Homo sapiens: one gene and its partner. The protein of the gene in region 1 purifies or fractionates together with the protein of each later gene. This does not show direct contact. Each region holds a gene or a part of one and is shown on either strand. Other genes may lie near its edges.

Evidence for each region.
Region 2: the proteins of ZPLD1 (region 1) and GNPTAB purify together in Homo sapiens (affinity purification with mass spectrometry; 2 studies listed by BioGRID and IntAct, with this or other methods). This does not show direct contact.

Annotation. Positions count from the first base shown.
Region 1 is NC_000003.12:102,441,480-102,445,312, reverse strand, and holds part of ZPLD1 (zona pellucida-like domain-containing protein 1 isoform 2 precursor), read right to left. Parts: intron 1-3,833. UniProt on the Homo sapiens protein: Glycoprotein which is a component of the gelatinous extracellular matrix in the cupulae of the vestibular organ.
Region 2 is NC_000012.12:101,744,999-101,748,312, reverse strand, and holds the end of GNPTAB (N-acetylglucosamine-1-phosphotransferase subunits alpha/beta precursor), read left to right. Parts: intron 1-1,071; coding exon 1,072-1,149; 3' UTR 1,150-2,814; downstream 2,815-3,314. UniProt on the Homo sapiens protein: Catalyzes the formation of mannose 6-phosphate (M6P) markers on high mannose type oligosaccharides in the Golgi apparatus.

The DNA of each region.
Region 1 (3,833 bases):
GAACTGACTGGTTTTGAATCTCAATGAAAGAAGGCTCATAAAATGCTCGGTAAGGCTAAGTCTAAGTAAGCCTCCTTTAGTGCTCCAGTGGCAGTGTGTGAAACAAAATTGGGAACAGGATCAGCCTCTTCTCTTACCCCCATCTCTGTCTCATTCTGTAAACCATAGCAGTTTAATACCCGGAGGAAGCAGAGCAGTCCACATCAAAAGGCAGCTACACCAAGCGGGGCAGTGTTTTCATAAAAAAGCATTTCTGGCAGTGGTGGTGCCTGTAGCACTGTGGTCAAGGAGTCCAGAGCAAAGAACCTAAGTGGACCTTTCCTGAGCATGTGTGACATGCAGTCTTGGGGAATCAGAAGCAACTGGAGAGGACGGGGGTAGAGTGGCTAGTCCACAGTGAGCAGGCAGGAGGCTCTGTACGGTTCAGATGCAGAGATTCCTGTGAATATCATCACATTAGTATTGATGTACTGGTTTGCATATACTTAAAAGTAGTATTGGTTTAAAACTGATAGTATAAACAGCAATCTGTTCAATATAGTGGGAGAAAACTTTTCTGTATGCTGCAGAGTGCTTTGTGGCATGGTAGAAAATCTCACCTGAAAATAATTTACATCCTGGGCTCCGATAAATATTCCAATACTAATTTATACCATCTTTTTAAACCATAATAATAATTTATATATCAGTTCTGCTTTTATCTCTAAAACAAGAGTGGTGATATTTGGCACTACATGGGCTTACAAATTGCCTAGAGAACAGATGCTACATATGTTGTTTTAATTCATTTTTGAAAGTTAAAATTTGCTCTTACCAAGTTTTTATATAAGATTGAGGTTTTGGTGCTAAAAGAGCTAGAAGTCCTAAAGGGGTATTGATATTTCATCTACACGAAATACCAACAGCTGATGAAGAACTTAAAGTGGATTAGGAATTCAAGTTTCCTCTGTATATTGAACAGGTTTTGTGCCACCTCAGTCTTTCATCACAACATCTGTTTCTCGTTAGCAAATGCAAGCTGTTGTTTCCAGTGCTCTAGGAAGTTCATAAGCAGTCTGAGGCAAACTTTGCAGACTTATAATCACACTTGCTGCTCCACATTCTTTGGAACCAGAAAAGTTTGGTCATCTTTTTCAGGCAGCAAAAAAAGCAAATGGGTTTTATTTATAAAAACAAAAAGTGAAAATTCATGCAATAAAGAATGCTGTTATTAAAATATGGGAGAATATGGACCCTGAATTACTCATTGAATTTGCTAATTGCTATCTTCTCCACTGCACTTTATCATTGTAAATTAATCAGAATGTGATCAGCAATAGCTGCCTGGATCTGTTCTTCTGCCTCATCTGTTGTAGTAATTGCTTTCACAGGTGCAAAGTGGAAAGCAGGCATCCTCTTGACAACTTGGAGACCAAAGCACTACCACTAAAAAGTAGGAATAAAGGAGAATTGGCCTTTCCTTTCTATACAGAGAACCAGAACATATTCCCTGGGATAACTATTCCACTAACCTCTCTTACTTTGTCTTTGGGCACAGAAAAATGCCATGGTTAAGCAAAGCCTAATATAAAATTAGACAGTTCATTTTACTGAACTCACTCATGAATTCTATTGATTAAATAATTGATTCTCAATTTTACCTCCTGTGGAACACTTGTGTTCATTGAATATTAAAATATTAAAAATATTACCGAATAAAAGATTTCCTTAGTCAAGCAGGTCTTGAAAAGACTAAACAAATTCCCCCAACACATGACTTTTCAGATCCTTAGACGTGGCAATTTCCATTGAGAATCTCCACACATACATCATTTTTAAAACTTACTATTCAAATTTCATTTTTAGACATCATTGTTTGATGGAAAGAATCTCTATTAATTTGCAGATTTGCAATATTTAACAAATGTATATCCTCAGTTTTCCTACTGTAAAGGGGGTATTTAAAAAGATTTTGTAAGTTTATTGTAAGAAATGAAAGAATTCTGTGAGGTGCCTGGTACTCAAAACATGGAACTTATTGCTTGTTTCCTTATTAGTATTATTTACAGCATAATACGAAATCACATGTTATGAAACACTGACTCATATTCAGTTTCCCATGACTACTTAGTTCACCATAAGACAGTGTCAAGCCATAAAGTTTATTGTGCTATAAGGCCATTTTCCTCTTTGGATGTGCCTTTATCATTAAAGATTTCTTTAGAGGCCAGAAAGTTTAGCCTAATCCTCATATACTTCCAAAGAAGGGGGCCTGGCTTCGGAAAATATACACTAGTCACAAAGGCCAAGTACATTCATCTGTATGTTTTACTTTAACCAAATAATTCCTTGGTACTCTAAATTCAACTATACTTTGAGTTTTATTCTAGAATCATCACAACTGTAATTTTAGTGGTTCATGAGTCTGCTTTTTGCTATTAGCTTGGATAACCAAGAGTTAACCACCTCTAAAATTAAATGGCATTCCTTTAAATTTAAATGAATTAGACCATGGTGCTTCTCTTGGTCCCAGGATAAATGCCATGGAAATTAAAGAAAATAGTTCTAATGTCATGAAACAGCAAAGGTCACATAGGGTGAGATGATTGCTCTCATCATTATTAACATTGCTTTGCATTTAGATAGCCCCTTTCCTTTGCCAGACTCATTCTCATTCCATCCCATTGCTTAGCCTCCGAGCAGCTTGTGGAGCTCCTGATGACATCAAGGGTGATCGTGATGTGGAAGAGATACTGAGAGTCAAGAGGGCAGTAAGCAATTAATCTTTAGGCTTTATTTGCTCACTCTGATCTTCTTTTTGCAAACAACCTCCAAAAAAATGGGTTAAATAATACCCATCTAAATATAAAGTCTCTCCCGGGACTTCAGCGTTATTTGGATTTTATTAATATTTGTGTTATTAAAATACAAATTTAGTGTTTTTTAAATACAAATTTTAAAATTGTAACTGTGTGTGTGTGTGTGTGTGTGTGTGTGTGTGTGTGTGTGTGTGTTTATGGGTGTATGTGTTTATGAATATATGTCTGGAAAGTTTGGGTGTTTGTTGCCTAAGCCAGATAGTACCTAAAGTGCTAATGTGTGTAAGAAAAAATACAAACAAAACACAAATATAATTGAAAATAGAGGAGGAGACTTCCTCCCTTTTTCTGACAGCATTTACTTTAGAAAACTTGTAATTAGAAGTACTTTCTCCTCTCTTTGAAGTGTGTATTAATCCTTTTGAAAACTAGATAGGATTCTTGTAAGCTTTGTGACCCAGGAATGTCTTTCTCAAGGATCTGAGAGTCATCTCTTTGAAATGTAAACATCAAGGGAGATGGTAGCCTTATGTCCCTGTTTCTGCGCTTAGGGTAGGAGCCTAATTTTGATGTGAGCCTTGCTCCAAATTGCAAAATTACCTCCTGTCATAAAGATATGAGAAGTTACTTTTTCCTCTGGATAAAACAAATCAGCTAACACAGATGGTCACCCTACTTACCAGGTAAAGTGAGGATTCATATGTGTGACAAATGGTCCTGTCAAGTCCTCTTACTTGAGGACTAGTTATTGTCTATATTGAAAACATATGTAATGAGTTGTCTCTGCTTGGCTATATATAAGGGCGAGGTTTCTTTCTGTTTTTGTAATCTCTTACTGATTACCTGTGATGTGAATCACATTCTGGTTTAATGCTTATTTAATGATAAAAGTGTTTTTATTTCTCTACTACCTAGGCAGAGAGGATTTCTAGGTTGGGAGAAGATTTTGTTTTTAGTTATATTTCCACAACAAATAATTGTGCTTTTAATTGGAATAATTGGCTCAAGAAAATGATAGAATACACTATCAGTTGT
Region 2 (3,314 bases), on another chromosome or scaffold:
GTTGACTTATACCAAGAAGGACAAGCACCTAAGTACTGAGAGCTTCAGGATAAATGAATGGGCTTCTTGCTGTAAATGGAAGGAAATTCAGGAAACAGAGACTGGGCAGGTGAACAGGACAGCAACTTAACCTTCATCTGCTTTCCAGGGATTGTACATCTTGTTCTTGATGTCTGTTACCATTGTTCCTGGCAGGTAAAAGTCTTATGAAAAATCTCAGAAAGGCTGTACCTGCTTTTAGAACAGGGTCCAGTGAGAAACCTTTGAGTCTGCTGTGCTGACCTAGGATGGGGAAGGAAAGGAGCCCTGACTCAAAGGAGCAGCCATTAATGGAAAGGAAGAGGAGTGTCAGTCTTTCCTCTATCTATACCAGTAGAGAATAGGGAACTAGAGAGGCAGTCTTTCCTCTATCTATACCAGTCTATCTATACCAGTAGAGAATAGGGAACTAGAGAGGCAGGAAGAGGGAAGGGAAGGGCAGGTTAAATCCCAACACTCTGCTCTCTACTGGAGTCAAACTCCTTCCTCCTGCCATACCTGCCACCTTCACAAACAAAGCAGCCAATGCTGCCTCTTCCTCCCCTCCCAAATTCCAGCTCATCATTCAAACCGTGGTGTCTTATGTTTGGGCAAAGCCCTGCCTCCTCCTACAGATGAAGGAATAAGCCATCATATCAACCCAGAGACAGTGTCTTATGGCTAAATAGAGCCAGTTTCCTTCAATAGAAAGACTTGACAAATGGACATCTTGAAAATAAATATGCTTTGGTAATAGCTGTGTAAAAATCTGTAGTTGTAGGTCTTAGAAAAATGAAGCATGGGCCGAAATAATTTTAATCCTCTTGGGTCTCTTTGTGGGCACATATCTAGGCATACTGTCCCTACAAAGCTAAACAAAACTAATATTTGTTTTTGTTTTGGAAGAGGAATGATGGAGATTTGTTTGTTGTCTTTTTAATGTATAAGATTGTGGAAATGATTAAGGTCATATGGCTCTTAGAAAGTTTGATGCACTTATATTCTTTCATCAACGTGAGAATTAAAATGTATTTTCTGTCTTTCATCATTTAGTTAATTGCACTTAAGCGGAAGATATTTCCCAGAAGGAGGATACACAAAGAAGCTAGTCCCAATCGAATCAGAGTATAGAAGATCTTCATTTGAAAACCATCTACCTCAGCATTTACTGAGCATTTTAAAACTCAGCTTCACAGAGATGTCTTTGTGATGTGATGCTTAGCAGTTTGGCCCGAAGAAGGAAAATATCCAGTACCATGCTGTTTTGTGGCATGAATATAGCCCACTGACCAGGAATTATTTAACCAACCCACTGAAAACTTGTGTGTTGAGCAGCTCTGAACTGATTTTACTTTTAAAGAATTTGCTCATGGACCTGTCATCCTTTTTATAAAAAGGCTCACTGACAAGAGACAGCTGTTAATTTCCCACAGCAATCATTGCAGACTAACTTTATTAGGAGAAGCCTATGCCAGCTGGGAGTGATTGCTAAGAGGCTCCAGTCTTTGCATTCCAAAGCCTTTTGCTAAAGTTTTGCACTTTTTTTTTTTCATTTCCCATTTTTAAGTAGTTACTAAGTTAACTAGTTATTCTTGCTTCTGAGTATAACGAATTGGGATGTCTAAACCTATTTTTATAGATGTTATTTAAATAATGCAGCAATATCACCTCTTATTGACAATACCTAAATTATGAGTTTTATTAATATTTAAGACTGTAAATGGTCTTAAACCACTAACTACTGAAGAGCTCAATGATTGACATCTGAAATGCTTTGTAATTATTGACTTCAGCCCCTAAGAATGCTATGATTTCACGTGCAGGTCTAATTTCAAAGGGCTAGAGTTAGTACTACTTACCAGATGTAATTATGTTTTGGAAATGTACATATTCAAACAGAAGTGCCTCATTTTAGAAATGAGTAGTGCTGATGGCACTGGCACATTACAGTGGTGTCTTGTTTAATACTCATTGGTATATTCCAGTAGCTATCTCTCTCAGTTGGTTTTTGATAGAACAGAGGCCAGCAAACTTTCTTTGTAAAAGGCTGGTTAGTAAATTATTGCAGGCCACCTGTGTCTTTGTCATACATTCTTCTTGCTGTTGTTTAGTTTGTTTTTTTTCAAACAACCCTCTAAAAATGTAAAAACCATGTTTAGCTTGCAGCTGTACAAAAACTGCCCACCAGCCAGATGTGACCCTCAGGCCATCATTTGCCAATCACTGAGAATTAGTTTTTGTTGTTGTTGTTGTTGTTGTTTTTGAGACAGAGTCTCTCTCTGTTGCCCAGGCTGGAGTGCAGTGGCGCAATCTCAGCTCACTGCAACCTCCGCCTCCCGGGTTCAAGCAGTTCTGTCTCAGCCTTCTGAGTAGCTGGGACTACAGGTGCATGCCACCACACCCTGCTAATTTTTGTATTTTTAGTAGAGACGGGGGTTCCACCATATTGGTCAGGCTTATCTTGAACTCCTGACCTCAGGTGATCCACCTGCCTCTGCCTCCCAAAGTGCTGAGATTACAGGCATAAGCCAGTGCACCCAGCCGAGAATTAGTATTTTTATGTATGGTTAAACCTTGGCGTCTAGCCATATTTTATGTCATAATACAATGGATTTGTGAAGAGCAGATTCCATGAGTAACTCTGACAGGTATTTTAGATCATGATCTCAACAATATTCTTCCAAAATGGCATACATCTTTTGTACAAAGAACTTGAAATGTAAATACTGTGTTTGTGCTGTAAGAGTTGTGTATTTCAAAAACTGAAATCTCATAAAAAGTTAAATTTTTGTCTGACACTTTGATTTTTAAATCTTTGAGGATTGAGTTTACTGTTACTCAGATTCAGCAGTCACTTGAGTGCCTTTACTGTGTATCAGGTTCTGTGCTGAACATTACTAAAATTAAGTGGAAAGTAAGGAAAGATTAGTATTATACAGAAGAATGTTGCTTTATGGGGGGAAAATAGTTTCTAAATGGAATTTATCATATGGTAAAATTTAGGATATCTGGGTATCATTATAAAAGCTGAGATTTATTCTAGAAAAGTTAGAGAAATGAACATTTGTCTGTAATGACGATTTCTGTGGTTAGATGAATATAGTCCATACCTAATTAGGAGCTTGATAATGGGATGGATAATACAATCATAGGCTATTCATAGACTCATTCTAATGATTCTGTGATTCAGTAGAATCATTAGAACAGAGGAACCTCAGAAGTTGATGAGCAGTCAGATGGTCAGAACCATTTGTTCAAATCCTATAGAAAAGGTCACTCTGTGTTTTAGTTTTTTT